Homo sapiens: one gene and its partners. The gene in region 3 interacts genetically with the main gene of each other region. Each region holds a gene or a part of one and is shown on either strand. Other genes may lie near its edges.

Region 1 (4,216 bases), on a different chromosome or scaffold from region 3:
TCAAACCAGCCATAACATTCCCTTAAGCCAAAACCTTATCCAGAGCAAGGCCCTAAGTCTTCAATTCTTTGAAGCCTAAGAGAGGTGAGGAAGTTGCAGAAGAAAATTTGGAAGCTAGCAGAGGTTCTTTTAAGAAAAGAAGCCATCGGCCGGACGCGGTGGCTCATGCCTGTGATCCCAGCACTTCGGTAGGCCAAGACGGGCGGATCACCTGAGGACCAACATGGAGAAATCTCGTCTCTACTAAAAATACAAAATTAGCTGGGCGTGGTGGAGCATGCCTGTGATCCCAGGTACTTGGGAGGCTGAGGCAGGAGAATCACTTGAACCCGGGAGGTGGAGGTTGCAGTGAGCTGAGATCGCGCTATTGCACTCCAGCCTGGGCAACAAGAGTGAAACTCTGTCTCAAAAAAAAAAAAAGGAAGAAAAGAAGCCATCTCCATAATAAAGTACAAGGTGAAGCAGCAAGTGCTGATGTAGAAGCTGCAGTAAGTTTTCTAGAAGATCTAGCTAAGCTCACTGATGAAGGTGGCTACACTAAACAATAGGTTTTCAAGGTAGAAGAAACAGACTTACATTGGAAGATGCCATCTATGACATCTAGTTGAGCCATTTCTCACTTACTATTCTAAAAATCCAATGGCCCTTAAGACTTATGCTAAATCTACTCTGCCTGTGATCTATAAATGGAACAACAAAGCCCTGGATGACAGCACATCTATTTACAGCATGGTTTACTGAATAAGCCCACTGTTGAGACCTACTGCTCAGAAACATTTTTTTTTTCTAGAGGCAGGGTCTCGCTCTATCTCCCAGGGTGAAGTACAGCGGCACCATCATGGCTCACTGCAGCCTTAATCTCCTGCGCTTGAGCAGCCTTCCTCCCTCAGCCTCCCGAATAGCTGGGACAAAGACAGATGCCACCATGCCCAGCTAATTTTTTTTCCTTTCTCTCTCTATTATCTGTCTGTCTATCTATCTATATGTGTGTGTTTTGTTTTGGTTTGTTTTTTTTTTTTCTTTTTGGTAGAGACGAGGTGTCACTGTGTTGCCCAGGCTGATCTCGAACTCCTGGGCTCAAGTGAGCCCTTCCAAAGTGCTGGGATTACAGGCCTGAGCCACCTCACTGGTCAATATTTTTCCTTTTTCTTTTCTTTTTTGAGACAGTGTTTCACTTTGTCAGGCTGGAGTGCACTGGTATGATCTCAGCTCACTGCTGCCTCTACTTCCTGGGCTCAAACAATCCTCCCATCTCAGCTCCCCAAGTAGCTTGAACTACAGGTGCACACCACTACACCCAGCTAACTTTTTGTATTTTTTGCAGAGATGGGGTTTCACCATGTTGCCCAGGCTCGTCTCAAATTCCTGACCTCAAGCGATCCACCTGTCTTGGCCTCCCAAAGTGCTAGGATTACAGACATGAGCCACTGCACCCACCCATTATTTTTCTTTTTTTTTTTTCTTATTTATTTATGTTTGAGACGGAGTTTCACTCTGTCTCCCATGCTGGAGTGTAGTGGCACAATCTCAGCTCACTGCAACCTCAGCTTCCCGGGTTCGAGTGATTCTCCTGCTTCAGCCACCCAAGTAGCTGGGATTACAGGTGCACACCATCATGCCCTGCTAATTTTTATATTTTTAGTAGAGATGGGGTTTTGCCACATTGGCCAGGCTGGTCTTGAACTCCTGGCCTCAAGTGATCTGCTCTCTTTGGCCTCCCAAAGTGTTGGGATTACAGGCGTGAGCACCATGCCCGGCTTTTTTTTTAAATGTATTTTTGGAGAGATGGGGTCACTGTGTTGCTCAGGCCGGCCTGGAATTCCTAGGCTCAAGCAATCCTCCTACCTTTGCCTCCCAAAGTTCTGGGATTACAGACATGAGCCCCTGTGCCCAACCTTAATGTTGTTTTCATGCCTGCTGATGTAACATCTATTCTGCAGCCAGTTGAGTAGTTGATTTTTTTTTTTTTTTGAAACAGGGTCTCACTCTGCCTCTCAGGCTGTAGTGCAGTAGCATGATCTCATCTCACTGCAACCTCCACCTTTCAGGCTCAAGCAATCCTCCTACCTCAACCTGCCAAGTAGCTGGGACTTAAGGTGTGTGCTACCATACCCTGCTAATTTTTTGTATTTTTAGTAGAGATGGGTTTTTGCTGTGTTGCCCAGGCTGTTTTTGAACTCCTGTGCTCAAGCAATCTGCCTGCCTTGGCCTCCCAAAGTGCTAGGATTATAGGCGTGAGCCACCATGCCCAATCAGTTTTGACTTTTAAGTCTTGTTATTTAAGAAATACATTTCATAAGGCTATATCTGCCATAGATAGTGATTCTTCTGATGGATCTGGGCAAAGTAAATTGAAACCATTCTAGATGCTATTAAGAACATTCATGATTCATGGGAGGAGGTCAAGATATCAACATTAACAAGAGTTTGGAAGAATTAGATTCCAACTCCAATGGATAACTTTGAGGGGTTCAAGACTTCATTGGAAAAAGTAACTGCAGATGTCATGGGAATAGCAAGAGAACTAGAAGTGGAGCCTGAGCATGTGATTGAATTGCTGCATGATATCTCATGATACAACTTGAGTGGATGAGGAGTTACTTCTCATGGATGAGCAGAGAAAGTGGTTTCTTTTGAGATGCACTCTGCTAATGAAGATGCTGTGAATATTGTTGAAATGACAACAAAGGATTTAGAATATTATATAAACTTAGTTAATAATCAGTGGCAGGGTTTGAGAAGAAGGATTGACTCTAGTTTTGAAAGTTTTACTGTGGGTAAAATCCTATCAAACAGCATTGCATACTAGAGGAATCTTTTGTGAAAGGAAGAGCCCATCAATGTGGCAAGCTTCATTGTTGTTTTATTTTAAGCAATTGCCACAGTCTTGCCAGGCGCAGTGGCTCATGCCTGTAATCCCAGCGTTTTGGGAGGCTGAGGCGGGCGGGTCACCTGAGGTCAGGAGTTCAAGACCCGCCTGGCCAACATGGGGAAACCCCGTCTCTACTAAATATACAAAAATTAGCCAAGTGTGGTGGTGGGCACCTGTGATCCCAGCCACTTAGGAGGCTGAGGCAGGAGAATCACTTGAACCCAGGAGGCGAAGGTTGTAGTGAGCCAAGATCACACCATTGCACTCCAGCCTGGGTGACAAGAGTGAGACTCCATCTCAAAAAAAAAAAAAAACCAGTTTGCCACAAGTCACCCCAATCTTCAGCACCCATAAACCTGATCAATCAACAGCCATCAACATTGAAGCAAAATCCTCCACCAGCAAAAAGATTAGGACTTGCCGAAGGTGCAGATGATCATTAGCTTTGTTTTAGCGATAAAGTATTTTAAAATGAAGGTGTACGCTGTCTTTTTAGACATAGTAGTATTGCACGTTTTATAGTATAGTGTAAACATAACTTTTTTTTTTTTTTGAGACGGAGTCTCGCTCTGTCGCCCAGGCTGGAGGGCAGTGGCGCTATCTCGGCTCACTGCAAGCTCACCTTCCGGGTTCACACCATTCTTCTGCCTCAGCCTACCGAGTAGCTGACCCTACAGGCGCCCCTCACCAAGCCCGGCTAATTTTTTTTGTATTTTTAGTAGAGATGGGGTTTCACCATGTTAGCCAGGGTGGTCTCGATCTCCTGACCTCGTGATCCGCCCGCCTCGGCCTCCAAAGTGCTGGGATTACAGGCGTGAGCCACCGCGGCCGGCCAGTGTAAACATAACTTTTACATGCTCTGGGAAATCAAAAAATTCATGTGACTCACTTTATTGCGATATTCACTTCATTATGGTGGTCTAAACCCACAATATCTCTAAGGTATGCCTGCACTAAAATCGAATGATACAGGAAGCTTAGCATGGTCCACGCACAAGGATAGCATGCAAATTTATGAAACACTTCATATATTTAAAAACGAATGTTTTTAATTGTAGTTAATGCTCTGTTTCTCAAACCAGAAACCCCTGGGATATGAGAGGGAAGTTACAGGATAAATGCAGATATATTCAACAAAACATTTACTAATTGCTTTATTATGTACCAGGTACTGTTGCTAGGCTAGAAGGGAGGAAAAAATAGATATGATCCCTAGCCCTGTGAAGTGTGTAGTTCAGTAAGTATAACAGTACAAGAAACAAATCAATGCAAATATATAGTTACATAACTACAATTTGGATTAAGTATTAGGAAGAAGAGGCTGGGTGTGGTGGCTCACGCCTG
Region 2 (4,958 bases), on a different chromosome or scaffold from region 3:
TCTCTCAACTCCTCAACTGGGGGTTCGGGGTTGGGGGGCAACAGTTAGTTGCAGTAGGGGGATCAGCCCAGCCCTGGGTAGAGGGAGAAGCCCCCACCCAGTCCCCACTCCTATCAATAGCCAGCAAACTGTCCATCCATCTGAAGGCGGGAACAAATGGCAGGTAGGTCGGAAGAATCAGGCTGGCACTGCCCCCAGCCTCTGTCCAACACAGGAGGAATCGAGGTAGCAAACGGCTGAAATGCTCTGACTAGGGGTTAAAAGGGAAGTGAAGGAAAGGAAGTTCCTACTTGTATACAGTGCCCACAGCCTAGGGGCTGGAAGAAAGCATACCTTGCTTGTAAAGTGCTGTAGCCTCTAGCAGGGCTAGGCCCCAGGCAAACTTGGAAGAAAGCAGACCAGGCAAGGAACCAGGTAACGGGCATTCCTGACTGGTATATGCCCTGCTGTGCTGCTTGCAGGGGTGGCTTGGGAGAGTGGGGTGCTAACTCTGCCATTAGCCTTCACCACCCACCAACCACCTCTTGTCCACACACAAACCAACACCCAACCAATACTGTGGGACCGACCCGCTCACAGCTGAAGGTTATGGGCCAACAGAGTTTATTCAGGGTTGTGGCCCCAGCCTGGGCTCCTCAATGGAAGCCACACCTTGATTGAGCCTGGGAGTTTCTTGCCGGGGCAGGGGGTGCTTCTGTCTGCCACCTCCCAGGGTCACACCTCATAGAGGATCACAGGGAAATCCACGTGGATGCGGGGGTGATCCAGCTTCACGATGCCCTGCCATGGAAACAGAGGCTAGTAAGGGTCAGCTCAGGGCCTCTACTTCAGGAAGCTTCCTTGTTCCTCCCAGATCCCCCCGCAAAAGCCCCCACCATGACAACAGATCCCATCTGGGTCCACCTCCACACGCTTAGTGTAGGCTCTGTGACCGCTGCCCAGCCCCTCACCTGAGGAATCAGATTCTTATGCACTCGCCTCAGCTTGGCCCGCTTCTGCCCGTTCTTGGTGACGATTGTCTCCTCATAGAACTCGTGAGCCAGATCCCCATCCTCATCATAGAACATAGAGCTGTGTAGAGGGAGAAGGAAACAGGCTGGGCTGGAGCCCCACACCTGGGCATGGCAAATGTCACAGGTCACGGGGAAGTCTGTGGTCTTCCCAACCCCAAGTGGGAAGAAAAGAGGATAATATGCCTGGAGAATCCTTTTTTTAAAAAAAATTTTTCGAGACAGAATCTCACTCTGTTGCCCAGGCTGGAGGTGCAGTGGCGCGATCTCAGCTTGCTGCAACCTCTGCCTCCTGGGTTCAAGCAATTCTCCTGCCTCAGCCTCCCAAGTAGCTGGGACTACAGACATGCACCACCACACCCTGCTAATTTTTTGTATTTTAGTAGAGACGGGGTTTTGCCATGTTGCTCTGGCTGGTCTCGAACTCCTGAACTCAGGCAATCCACTCGTCTTCATCTCCCAAAGTGTTAGGATTACAGGCGTGAGCCACGGTGCCTGGCCTGCCTGGAGAATCCTTTGCCTGGGGTTTGGGGTCTACTAGAAGAAAGTGGGAAGTGAGGTGATGGGTGGGCAGTGCTACTATGTCAGACCCCCAAGAAGAGAGCCCACACCAGAGCACACCATCCAGGCAGCCACCAAGGCCAGTTCTCATCCTTGATTTGTTCAGCAAGGGCAGCCATTCTAATATCAGGACTTTGCCTTCACCCAGGACTTCTAGAGTGGGCAGGGTGGTGGCCTGGGCATGTTGGTCTCACTCCAGAAGATGCTGCTGGCCCAGTGTCAAAGACTGAAATAGCAGAAGCCTAAGCTAGGAAGAAGCACAAAGGAATGAAGGCTGCGTCTCCCCTGACCCCACACCCCAGGTGGCTGGTGAATTGCCACTGTTGGGTCTTCCTGGTGTCTACAGCCAAATCTCTAGCACAGGGAGCGCCCATCTCCAGGAGCCCACTAGAGCCAAGCCAATCTGGTACTCTTGTGCGGGCCTCTGGGAGACTGGGCTGGGGGTTGGGTGGGTAGGTCAGCGCTCTGGATCTGGAGAACATAACTGGGTGAGGGTCTTTTTTCCTCAGCCTCACCCCCAATACTGAGGCCTATCCCTGCTTTCCCAGCCACTACGCTCAAAGGTTCAGCCCCACTACTGTCAGGAAAAGCAGCCTAAACAGAGGGTTATTATCCCCTTGGAATAACTGGGGGGGAAAGGGAGGCTAGGACCCTTCAGTATGCAGGCTGAGCCGGAAGGGATGAAAGGAAGAGATCTTATGGAGGTCTTATGGAGGCCCTAGCTTAGCTTTACCGTGCGGAAGGTCCGACCAGTGACAAGCCTCAGGCCCACTCTTCCCTAGGGAGACTTTCAGAGTGGCCAGGCCGCCAGGAGACCACTGCCCGGCTTTCTCCACCCCCAGCTCCAATGAGGCTCAAAATATGGGGGTCGTCCTGGCTTGGCTGTAGTGGGGTACAGCGGTGGAAGTTCCCCCGTGGCGCGGGACGCCTGGCCGCCCGCCTGTTCCCCCCGCCAGGGTGGAACCCATGCCCTTACCCGCGGCGCGTGAATACGAAGGGGGGCACAGCTCGGCCCCGAGGCCGCACCAAAGCTTGCTCAGCTCCTGCTGCCTCTGAGCCGCCGCCTCCGGCCGCCGAGGCGAAGGGCCACAGGCCCCGAGCTTTGGACCCGCTGGCGCCCATGTCAGGGCCGCCGGCGCATGGCGGGCCCCGTGGCCGCTCTGCTCACACCGCAGTCCGCACTACCATAACCTGCCCCAGCCGCTGATCGCAGGTGCCGCCGCCGCCGCCTTCCGCAGGCTCGGCTGTCTCCACGGAAACCTCACTTCCGCTTCCGCACGCTGCCACCTCTGATTGGCTGTTGCTCAAGTCGTGGGGGCGGGACCAATGGGCGCCCTTAGATGCTGGGCATCCCAGCATGCGTTGCGAGATCCCAGGTCCCAGCAAGCGCGATCTGACCAGCTGGGACAGCTCCCACCGAGGAAAGTGGTGGCCGTGAGTCCTCCCGGTCTTTTGGGTGTATTTGGCGGCTCTGACGTCCCCCAACACCTGAGTTCAGGCCTAGCAGGACTTCGCAAGCACCAATCCTCAAACCTGCACTTCAGGGCCTAAGGCCAGACCGCCGGGTGCCCATCTGGCTTCTATTTTCACAGCTGTATTTTTGCGATTGCCACGCTTATGTGAACTAACCAAGTTGAAAGAAAATTAAGGAACTGGCCAGATTCACATAGTTACATTCAGTTCTGAAGAACTTCGAATTCAGTGTTTTCAAACCCAGCAGAGTCCATGCTTAATGAAAGCAAGAATTGTTAACAGCTATACCCTCGGTATCACGAGCAGTGTCTGGTCCACGGTGGCAGCTCTGTATTTGGTGAAGGAGTTATGCCACACCTTCTCCCAGAGCGTGGTGTGTGTGTGTTGAAGGGATGGTTTTGTTTTTTTTTTTTTTTGAGATGGAGTTTCACTCTTGTCGCCCAGGATAATGTGCAGTGGCACGATCTCGGCTCACTGCAGCCTCTGCCTCCAGGGTTCAAGCGATTCTCCTGCCTCAGCCTCCCGAGTACTTGGGATTACAGGCATCTGCCACCATGCCGGCTAATTTTTTTGTATTTCTAGTAGAGACGGGGTTTCACCATGTTGGTCAGGCAGTCTTGAACTCCGGACCTCAGGTGATCCACCCGCCTTGGCCTCCCAAAGTGCTGGGATTACAGGCCTGAGCCACTGCGCCCGGCCGTTTTTTTTTTTTTTGAGTTGGAGTCTTGCTCTATCGGAGTGCAGTGGTGTGATCTCCACTCACTGCAACCTCTGCCTGCCGGGTTCAAGCGATTCTCCTGCCTCAGCCTTCTGAGTAGCTGGGACTACAAGCGCCCACCACCACGCCCAGCTAAATTTTTTTTGTATTTTTGGTAGAGATGGGGTTTCGCCATGCTGGCCAGGCTGGCCTCGAACTCCTGGCCTCAAGTGATCTGCCCACCTAGCCCAACCAAAGTGTTGGGATTACAGGTGTGAGCCACTATGCCCAGCCAGTTTCCCTAAGTTCTAACTGCAGTCCATTTTTGTCTCCACCACAACCTGAGCCCCAGGGAGCTGAGTGATGACCAAGTATGTATGCATACTACATCTTCACAAATTGGTCCATGGTGACTTTGCAAGACACCTGGGAGCCTGTCCATCACCCTTGGCAACTTCTGGCACCATGAGGGGCAACTGCAGCTCTGCGCCTATAATAATAAAGAGTCCAGGCTGGGCAGGGTGGCTCACACCTGTAATCCCAACACTTTGGGAGGCCAAGTTGGGAGGATCCTGGGCAACACAGAGAGACTCATGTCTCTACAAAAACTTTATATGTATAAAAGATTCCAACAGCAGGAGGATCTTGAAATCTTTATTGAGCCAATTCTCTCAGGCCCCAGGCCCTGATGATGACTGTCACCCCAACCCCTTTCCCCACAGGAGGCATTCAGCTGAGGCCACCACACATTACATACATTCACGCACTTCATAAAAAACACCTGAGGGAGAGACCCTGGCTTTGATTAGCAAATAAGGTATGAACCTGGGCCAGTGCCCACATTCACACAGACCCTGGCCCAGGGACATCCTCCTCATATGAAGCATTAAGGCACATGCTGTACTGTGAGCCAGCACTCCCTGACCTCAGGGTGTGTGAGGAGTTGGCACTGTAGAGAGAAACCAAGACTCTTCCTCAATGCCTGCCTTATTCTGAGCACCCACCCTTAGCTCTGATAAGGATATCCTGAGACCACATTCAAGATCCAAAACCTTTCCTCATAGATGAGGGCCGTCACCCCTGCAAACATGACCCTGTTCTGTTTGCAGGGTCTCCAAGATTTTCACTTCTGAGACAAAAATTGAGGAGACTTCTGTCTGCACCACTCCTGCTGCAGGCCTGGAGCAGCTTCTCAGGGCAGCCCTGGCCCACTAAGG
Region 3 (4,773 bases):
ATGTCTGCTGATATGATACCTATGATACTAGAAAGAAGAGTTTAAAGAGGCACAGAGGGGGACAACCTAGAGGGGCAGAGGTGACTAGGAATACTTCTTAGAGTGGGTAACACCTGAGCTAAGTCTTCATGGTTGGAGATGGCCTTGGTGGGAAATATCTAGACTCTCTCCCATCTCCGTGGCATCTAGGCCAGTCTACTGGATTGGCCACTCTTCCACCTAAACCCTACTAATCCTTTAGATAAGCTCAAGATTCAGCTTTGCTTTCTTGGAGCCTTCACAAACTAACTTATAAATAGCACTCTTTTGCCCCTGAATTATCACTGCCTTTATAAAAGTTCAGTTACAATCACGGCATTTTAAAGGTTTGCATCCTTTTCCAATCTGGAAGACAGGCTCAGGCATTAGAATTCTCTCTGTACCTCATCCTAGGTTCAGTGAACCCTGAAGCCCACCCAATCAGAAGTGAGCGAAACCTAACCCAATGCTCCCTTTCCCTATAGACAGGGAAGGCTTGACTATGAGATCTGAGTATCAGGGAGAATGGCAGGAATATGCATGGAGTCACCTCAAAAGCCTTCCGTGGCTTTGCTTCTCATGCCAGTTATGTGGCAGTATGCACGTGTCTTATTTTGTTTTGTTTTCCTTTGTGGGGGAGGGGAATAAAGCCTGAAGGGAGAAGGAATTCATAACTGACTGTTGGCTGGCTTCATTCCAACCACTTTCTTTTCTGCTGGTGACAGCTGTTTTCCTCTTCTGATTTAGAAGGTTTGGAATAAATCCCTCCCTGCCACACCTCCCCGAGCTCAGCCACAAACTGATCCAACAGCAGGCTTCTGGTCTGGTGACTACAGAACATACACAGGAGGGAAGTCTGCAAGGCACAGTCTGCTGTCTGTCTGTGCTGCCTCACCTGTTTGCTTCCTGGGCTGAGTCTACAAAATTGTAAGGTATCAGAGTAGGCACAAGCTCTGGGTGGTGTCCAATTCAGGTTTTCATTTAAGTTTCCCATACAGAATAACTAAACACATAATTTCCTACTACTTCTTCCTTTATTATAAACTATTTCTACTAAGCAGTTCCTGAAATCCTATCTCTACTGGGAAGCTTCCAGGAATGGGAAGATCTACTTCTACTCTGGCTGCCTCTGTACCATCTTGCAGGCCGATTTATGTGGCAGAAACCTTGCTGAAAGCCAAAGTTATTTCTAACTTTTGACAGTCTAGTGGGTTATATACTGTTACATACTGTTTGTATTTTACAAATAATGAAATTAAGGTTCAGAGTGGTTACACACCTTAAGGTCATATATGTTATAAGTGGCCAAGAAGGGATTCAAAACCAGGTCCATCTCTCCAAATCCTGTCTTTGCTACTATGCCAAATTGCCTCCCATGGAATCAGAATGCCCACAGACTTTCCCTAGCTTTACACCTCAGTGGGACCATAGATACACGGTAAACTTACTGCTAATACCTCATACTACCAGGGAGGTCTCTGCTTCCTGCCTTATCTTCTGGGAAACCTGTGCTCCCCGGTCTATCAATATTAGACTCAGAAAGCGGGAGAGGGGATGATGTCCCTGTGGGATGCATGGTACCACATGAAGCCAGTGAGTACCTAGAAAGGGGTTTGTGGAAACCACAGGGGCAGTCAAGTGTCAGGCGCCCACTCACCTGAGTCAATCCACCAATCTCCTTCACAGACACATAGAGGCGATAGAGGTCCAGAGGTTTCCTACCCACAGCAGGCAGATTTGTCATGCCCATGGCCTTCTCCTCAGTGAAGGCCAGATAACGGTCCACCCACATCTTCCTCTCAGGCTCACCACCCAGCTCATACAACTTGGTGATCTTCTCATTGGTTGTAGTAGAAGAACTGGATTTCTGGAAGGTTCAGGTCAAAATTCATAGGAATGGGTCAGATTCAAAGCCTGTGCTAAGGGTCTCAGAAGTCTCTTGACTGGAGCAGTGTTAAAGCTTCTTACTCTGGGGTGGTTACTAACACCTGTCCTACCTTCATAAGGTTGAAGGGCCAAAAGAGAACCAAATTTTTTTTTCCTATAAAGGAAGGAAGCTAACACTAAATATATGTTATGTACTGGGTGCTGTGCTAGATGCCTTTATATATTAGGTATTATAAAATTATCCCCATTTGTAAAGATAAGGAAGCAGGCACCAGGAGGCAAAGCCTAAGATCTCACAGCTTTTAAGTGGCAGGCTGAGTATCAAATCCTTGTCCACCTGACATCAAAGCCACTACTGCTCCCACACTACTACCCAGGAGCCTGAACATACTTAGGTACTATGTTTTAGAGAAATCGAAAAACTCACAACATGATCTTGAGGCAATGGGATGGACTAAAATGAAAAGAAACTCTTTGCCTCTTCTAAACAAAGGAAAGGTTTCCCACCTGGTTGAAGGGCTTTGGATATTATCCTGTACAAGACAGGAACGTGGTCAAAAGGGCTGGGAGCCAGAGGTGAAGACTCACAGGAATTAACAGCTATGATTTTTATTTTCCCTATGTATACAGATAGGGAAAGTGAGGTATGGCCAAGGACAGAAATATTACAAATGACCCAAATGCTGAGTAGGACCCTTTACTACCGCACAGCCTAACAGTACACCCAGGACCAACCTAAGGGAAGCCAAGGACTCAAGCCTCATCTGCCTTATCTCCTTCTTTACAGAACACAGGGTACCATTCCTGCTGCTATGAGTAAGGTTCAGGAAGAGAAGAGCAACTAGTTGCCCATGGCACACCCCATCTATCAATGCTTGAGTATAGGAGGCACGGTTTCACAGAGGGCACCAGCCAAACAGTACAGAGAGTTTGATGCTGCAGTGTCTGGCATTTCCCCCATAACAAACAGCTGTGAGAATATTATGTTATTTACCAGGATCCCTTAGACCAACCCAGACCCAACTCACTGAGCTATTATTCTGGGACCTTTCATGATAAGAGGAGGCAACAGCAGCTTTTTCAGAGACTATCTAGTCCGGTGTCATAAAAGGCTGGGATCTTGTCACTCTCTTTTCTTTTTCCTTCCTATCACTGAAAAAGATAGGACACAAAGTTGAAAGGAGTCAAGACAAAAATCACTACCTTGGATTTGGATTCTGTCTTGGGTGTCCCATCTGCCTTGTTGTTCATTTTGGTGGCTGGAGTTAACTTTACATCCCCAAGGCCCATCATCTCTGGGCTGGCTGCCATCCCTGTAAAAGAGAAAAAAATTCTCAAGTCCAGTAAGTTTAGCTGTGATGTGACTCTTGAAGAAATCCCTAGTGAGAATGACTAGCACTTACCTGCAGAATTGTTGGCCATGGTTCCACCCATGGAATATGGGGGTCCCTGAGGGTTGATCATGCCAGCCATACTATTAATCCCTTGTCCATAAGGAGGTCCAGTTCCCATCATGCCCCCTTGATTCATATTGGGGTAGCCTGGCGGCCTAAGGAAGAAGATGGAAAGTGAGAGAGACAAAGGTTAGACTCTGAGCTTTTAGATTTGAACTGGAGCCAAATAGTGCTGTGTGATCATCTAGTAAGGATTAAAAGGAAAACATTTATGGGTCCCCAAAACTAGAACTATGCAACATCCAGATATTATTTTTCTTTAATTTATTTTCTTGAGACAGGGTATTGCTCTGGCACCCTGGCTGGAATGCAGTGGTGTGATCATAGCTTACTGCAGCCTTAATCTCCTGAGCTCAAACAATCTGCCTTCCTCAGCCTCCTGAGTGCCTAAGACTATGAGGCATGCACCACCATGTCCAGCTAACACCCAGATTTTCTTTTTTTTTTTTTTGAGACAGAGTTTCACTCTTGTTGCCCAGGCTGGAGTGCAATGGTGAAATCTCGGCTCACTGCAATCTCAGCCTCCCAGGTTCAAGCAATTCTCCTTTCTCAGCCTCCCAAATAGCTGGGATTACAGGCATGTACCACCACACCCGGCTAATGTTGTATTTTTAGTAGAGATGGGCTTTCTCCATGTTGGTCAGGCTGGTCTCGAACTCCTGACTTCAGGTGATCCACCTGCCTCGGCTTCCCAAAATGCTGGAATTACAGGCATGAGCCACCGAGCCCGGCCAACACCCAGATTTTCTTATCTTCTACCTCCCACGAAAGATACTAAGAGAGTTCAAGCTCTAGATAGCAAACAATAGTTCAATTTTTTTTTTTTTTGAGATGGAGTCTCGCTCTGTTGCCCAGGCTGGAGAGCAGTGGCGCGATCTCAGCTCACTGCAAGCTCCGCCTCCCGGGTTCACGCCATTCTCCTGCCTCAGCCTCCCAAGTAGCTGGGACTACAGGCACCTGCCACCACGCCCGGCTAATTTTTTGTACTTTATTAGTAGAGACAGGGTTTCACCGTATTAGCCAGGATGGTCTCGATGTCCTGACCTCGTTATCCGCCTGCCTCAGCCTCCCAAAATGCTGGGATTACAGGGGTGAGCCACCATGCCCGGCCAATTTTTTTTTGAGATGGAGTTTCACTCATCTCCCAGGCTGGAGTGCAATGGCATGATCTCGGCTCACTGCAACCTCCGCCTCCCAGGTTCAAGCCATTCTGCCTCAGCCTCGTGAGTAGCTGGGATTACAGGCGCCCACCACCATGCCTGGCTATTTTTTTGTATTTTTAGTAGAGATGGGGTTTTGCCATGCTGGGCAGGCTGGTCTTGAACTTCTGACCTCAGGTGATCCACCTGCCTCAGCCTCCCAAAGTGCTAGGATTACAGGAGTGAGCCACCGCACCCGGCCACAATAGCTCAAT
Region 4 (4,770 bases), on a different chromosome or scaffold from region 3:
CGAGGCAGCCGTGCCCGACCCCCGGGAGCCGGGGGAGTTTGCCCTGCTGCGGTCCTGCCAGGAGGTCTTTGACAAGCTAGCCAGGGTGGCCCAGCCCGGGATTAATTATGCGCTGGGCACCAATGTCTCCTACCCCAATAACCTGCTGAGGAATCTGGCTCGTGAGGGGGCCAACTATGCCCTGGTGATCGATGTGGACATGGTGCCCAGCGAGGGGCTGTGGAGAGGCCTGCGGGAAATGCTGGATCAGAGCAACCAGTGGGGAGGCACCGCGCTGGTGGTGCCTGCCTTCGAAATCCGAAGAGCCCGCCGCATGCCCATGAACAAAAACGAGCTGGTGCAGCTCTACCAGGTTGGCGAGGTGCGGCCCTTCTATTATGGGTTGTGCACCCCCTGCCAGGCACCCACCAACTATTCCCGCTGGGTCAACCTGCCGGAAGAGAGCTTGCTGCGGCCCGCCTACGTGGTACCTTGGCAGGACCCCTGGGAGCCATTCTACGTGGCAGGAGGCAAGGTGCCCACCTTCGACGAGCGCTTTCGGCAGTACGGCTTCAACCGAATCAGCCAGGTGCTCATAAGGGAGAGGGCAGGGGTAATGGGGCAGGAGGGGTGGTGGGATCAGGGAGTTATGAGGAGTGGCCCTGGATGGAAAGGAGGCAATGAAGCAGGAGGGATCATAGTTCAGGAGGTGGGTGGATGGTGTGGAAGATCCAGGATACTTCCAGAGGGGTGAGGACGCTGGACTGTGGCTTTAGGGAAGTCAGTCTCAGGCCTGTCAATGTCATCAAACTTTGCTAACCTGTCTTTCCTCCTGCAGGCCTGCGAGCTGCATGTGGCGGGGTTTGATTTTGAGGTCCTGAACGAAGGTTTCTTGGTTCATAAGGGCTTCAAAGAAGCGTTGAAGTTCCATCCCCAAAAGGAGGCTGAAAATCAGCACAATAAGATCCTATATCGCCAGTTCAAACAGGAGTTGAAGGCCAAGTACCCCAACTCTCCCCGACGCTGCTGAGCCCTTCCCTCCCCTAATCTGAGAAGTCAGCCTCTTGGCTCCTCAGGCCACCATTTAGGCCTGACTGGGGTAAGAAATGTCGCTCCACTTTACAGAGGTAGCTGTGGTGTTGAAACACTGGACTTGGATATGGGGTGCTGGGATCGATTCCTAGCTTTACCACTAACTAGCTGTGTGGCCTTGAGTAAATCCCGTTACCTCTCTGAGCCTCGGTTACCCTGTCTGTAAAAAGGGAGGTGAGAATACCTACCTCACGGAACTGTTGGGAGGCTCAGATGAGATGCTATATGTGAAAACATTCTGTAAGCTTCGTACAAATGTGAAGTATTAATATTATCGCAGTATTATTGTTGTTATTATTATTGTTATTATTAACAATCTTGGGTGGGTAGTAGGAGAGCAAAAAGTATGAATGGGATGGAGCTAAGAAGTCTGAATACTTAATGAAATGGACTTTTTGGAAAGAAATCAGATGAAGGCATAAAATTTAGTTCTTAGCTCTTGAACAGAAGCCTAAAATTCCTGGTTCTCTCAGGGCTTCGCCTTCAAGGGTTCTGGAGGAGGGAAGGGTCTGCAGGTTCCATGGGTGACAGCCTGAGATCTGTCCCTTCAACGGGCTGGGCTGGGTATGTGCCTACCGATGACAATGTGTAAATAAATGCGTGTTCACACCCACAGCTGGCTCCGTTACTCTCCTGAGCTGGGGGTGGGGGGATCGGGGCCGGCTTCTCCCCTTGCACGCCGTGGGGAGATGGCCGCGGACGAAGGGCACCGTCTGCAAAGCACTGAACCATCAGGGCCTTCCCTGCAGGCCGAAGGCCTGCGCGAATGTCGGCCAGTTACTATGGAGACCGGCCCGCGGTATCCCAGCATGCCTCGGGACCAAACTGTCCAACTGTGAGCATCCCCGACGGTCGCCTCCTGATGACGCACACGGAAGCACCGATAGGCTCTGCCTCCCGAAGAAAAGGGAGCCGCGCAGCGCCTACGGGAGTCCGGCGGCAGCAGCCGGTACCGGCAACCACGGGCAGCTCTCAGGGAATCTCCGTCGTGAGGCCAGAGGCTCCAGTCCCCGCGGTGCGTATCGTCATGCATGGCTTTTGGTTCGCCCTCTCCGGTTAGTCGAGCAGGGCCGGCACAACCTCCTCCTCCGAGGCCGAAGCAGAGATTTAACCGGCCTGACGCGTGCTGGGCTGCGGGCGAGCCAGTGATATTCCGGCCCGCTCCGGCGCATCTAGAAGGGAGCGGGAGGCCCCCTGGGCGCTGCGGAGAAGCTGGATTGACCTCTGCGAGAGTGGGGAGGGTCTGCCTTCCCTAGGGGCCTGCCCCGGAGGAGCTGCCATTCTGAAAAGATAAATTGCCTGTGTACAGCGCTTTACAGTGTGCTTTTCCATCCCTTACCACCTGTGAGCTCCTCAACACTCAGAGCAGGAATGGTTATCCGCTTTTTGCACCCGGGGTAAGGTGGGAAGGTTGTGACTTAACTCACTCATAATCAGAACCAGGGGGAGGAAAGAAAGGCTTCTGGAAGAGATAGACTTAAGCTGCATCTTACAAAGTGAATATACTAACAGTGAAGAGGCATTGCAAATGTTGGGAACTGAGGCTTGATAACGGGAAGATGAAGCTGGTTTAGAGAACCGAGCCTTTCAAGTCAGGTGCAGGTCATTAGTGAAATTGTTGAGGAATATGACTAAACACTCACCTAGGCCAGGCTTACTATACACAACTTGAACTGGTGTCAAGGAAAGCTTGCTACCATTACAGGGACCTGGGACTACCGAAAAGTAAAAACTAATGTCTGTCTCACAAAAAATTTTTTTGTTAAATTTGTATTTGCAAATCCTCCAGTCATCAAGTGAACCAGCACTGTGCTAGGTAAATAAGTTACATGTGCAGCCCCTGCCCTAGTGAGGCTCATAGACTGATTGCGGGGACAGATATGAGAACAGGCAAATAGATATAAACAAAGCTTCCTGGAGGGAGTGGTGTCTGCACTGTTCTAAAGGACTACAAAGCAGTGTCCAGAGAAGTTGGAAGAACACAATAAAATAGAAGCCTGCAGGAGGTTGAGAGATTATCTGCTGAGAGGACTGTTTTCTTCTTCTTAGGTGATCTCTTGGCAGTACTTGGCACTATCAGTGCAATTACTCCTTGGCAGTACTTGGCTTTCTTCTAAAACTCTTTCTCCACCACTTCGGGTTTTGCCTCCTCCTTTGTAGGGGTCTCCTCATCTGCCCCTTTGGTGACCCTGGGCGTCTTCTGATCGCACACATTGTGCCTTGCTGGTTGCACCTTCTCCTGTGGCATGAAGAACTTGCTGTATGCTGACGACCAAATCCCTGCAGCTCAGATTTCTCACTGAGACTTAGACCCATGTTCCCCCAGCTGCTTTCCTTCTCTTATTTCTGGGTCTTTGCTACTGACTCTACCTGGAATGTTCCCTCAATAAGTGCAGCTCACCCAGCTGGTCCATCTTTGTCTGGAAGCCTCCCTGCTGCATCGGGCTCCAGGTCCTGGTTATATACCCCTCCCTTATGCCCCTGGTCTTAACTCTCCTCCTATCATGGTTATAGTGTGCTCCTTTGCCCCTGTCTCCCAGGAACTTGTAAACTCCGTGAGGTCAAAGACATTCACACTTGGGCGCCTGCATACCATAGCGTCTGACGGTACCTAGCATATGTTAGATGTTCAATACATGTTAGATGAGTCAGTAAAAGAAGGAATGCTTACCAGTGTTGGATGTTGCCGAGCAGACAATTAAAATAAGCACTGAAAAATATTGGCATTAGCCACAAGGAAGTCATTGGTTAATGCTACGGGATCAGTTTCAGCTGAGATTGAGGACATCGAACAAGTGGGAGGTGAAAGTAGGAACAGCCAGTGTTCATGAGACCTTGAAAAGTGTAACTGTGAAGTGGCAAATGGAGCAGTTAGGTGGAATGGGTGAGGTTTTGTGTTTCTGTGTTTTGTTAATGCTAGGAAGTACCCAAGCACATCCAAAGTTTCATGGGAAGGAGGTTGCTAAGAGTTAGAAGCTGAAGACACAGAAAAGAGAGGGGAGCACTGATGACCTGCGGTCCAAGAGGAAGCAGAAGGAGATGGGATTTGACCCAGAGCACAATGAAAGACAAGGAGATTGTAACATTATCTGGAAGAGAAGCCGAGGACATTATAGGCAGAAGGAACAGCTGAGGCAGAGGGTGGATAGTGGAAGTGCAAGCACTAGCCATTATATGTTGGGATGAAGGAGCTGGACCGGTAGGTCAAGTCCAGTCTGGGAAAGACCTTGAAAGCCCCAGTTAGAAATTTAGGTCCAGTTTGGGTGTGGTGCGGGCGCCTGTAATCTCACTACTCAGGAGGCTGAGGCAGGAGAATCGCTTGAACCCAGGAGGAGGAGGTTGCAGTGAGCTGAGATCGTGCCACTGCACTCCAGCTTGTCAACAGAGCGAGACTCTGTCTCAAAAAATAATAAGAAGAAAAGAAATTTAGGTCCAGTTGCAAAGGCAGTGGAGAGTGCCCCCTGGGCCTTTCCTTTCTGTGGATCACAGCCTTGGCCAGTATTGCTAGGATTAGGATCACCAGTGACATCCAAGAGCAGGAGCAGTTCCACAGCTCCCAGCCTTCTGTGAGAGGTGCAGATGGCCATTTGCACCCTTGTCACCCAGTTTGTGCTCAAGGTGTGGCCAGGCCAGTTACTTCCCTGGCTTTCCCCATCTGGGATCGAGTTGTGTTCAGCATCCTGCTGCCTCTTTCCCCCT

What was found.
Region 1: changes in ARID1A (region 3) and ALG8 together harm fitness more than expected from each alone (negative genetic interaction), as found in Homo sapiens cells (one large-scale study listed by BioGRID).
Region 2: changes in ARID1A (region 3) and TUSC2 together harm fitness more than expected from each alone (negative genetic interaction), as found in Homo sapiens cells (one large-scale study listed by BioGRID).
Region 4: changes in ARID1A (region 3) and BRMS1 together harm fitness more than expected from each alone (negative genetic interaction), as found in Homo sapiens cells (one large-scale study listed by BioGRID).

What each region holds. Positions count from the first base shown.
Region 1 is NC_000011.10:78,133,110-78,137,325, reverse strand, and holds part of ALG8 (dolichyl pyrophosphate Glc1Man9GlcNAc2 alpha-1,3-glucosyltransferase), read left to right. Parts: intron 1-1,978; exon of another isoform or gene 1,979-2,096; intron 2,097-4,216.
Region 2 is NC_000003.12:50,325,407-50,330,364, forward strand, and holds the start of TUSC2 (tumor suppressor candidate 2), read right to left. Parts: upstream 2,818-4,958; 5' UTR 2,694-2,817; coding exon 2,548-2,693; intron 1,072-2,547; coding exon 951-1,071; intron 781-950; coding exon 715-780; 3' UTR 1-714. UniProt on the Homo sapiens protein: May function as a tumor suppressor, inhibiting colony formation, causing G1 arrest and ultimately inducing apoptosis in homozygous 3p21.3 120-kb region-deficient cells.
Region 3 is NC_000001.11:26,764,902-26,769,674, reverse strand, and holds part of ARID1A (AT-rich interactive domain-containing protein 1A), read right to left. Parts: intron 3,455-4,773; coding exon 3,309-3,454; intron 3,219-3,308; coding exon 3,109-3,218; intron 1,886-3,108; coding exon 1,676-1,885; intron 1-1,675. UniProt on the Homo sapiens protein: Involved in transcriptional activation and repression of select genes by chromatin remodeling (alteration of DNA-nucleosome topology).
Region 4 is NC_000011.10:66,342,288-66,347,057, reverse strand, and holds the start of BRMS1 (breast cancer metastasis-suppressor 1), read left to right. Parts: upstream 1-1,953; 5' UTR 1,954-2,086; intron 2,087-4,770. Other genes in the region: B4GAT1 (beta-1,4-glucuronyltransferase 1), read left to right, coding at 1-568, 818-1,009. UniProt on the Homo sapiens protein: Transcriptional repressor. Down-regulates transcription activation by NF-kappa-B by promoting the deacetylation of RELA at 'Lys-310'. Promotes HDAC1 binding to promoter regions.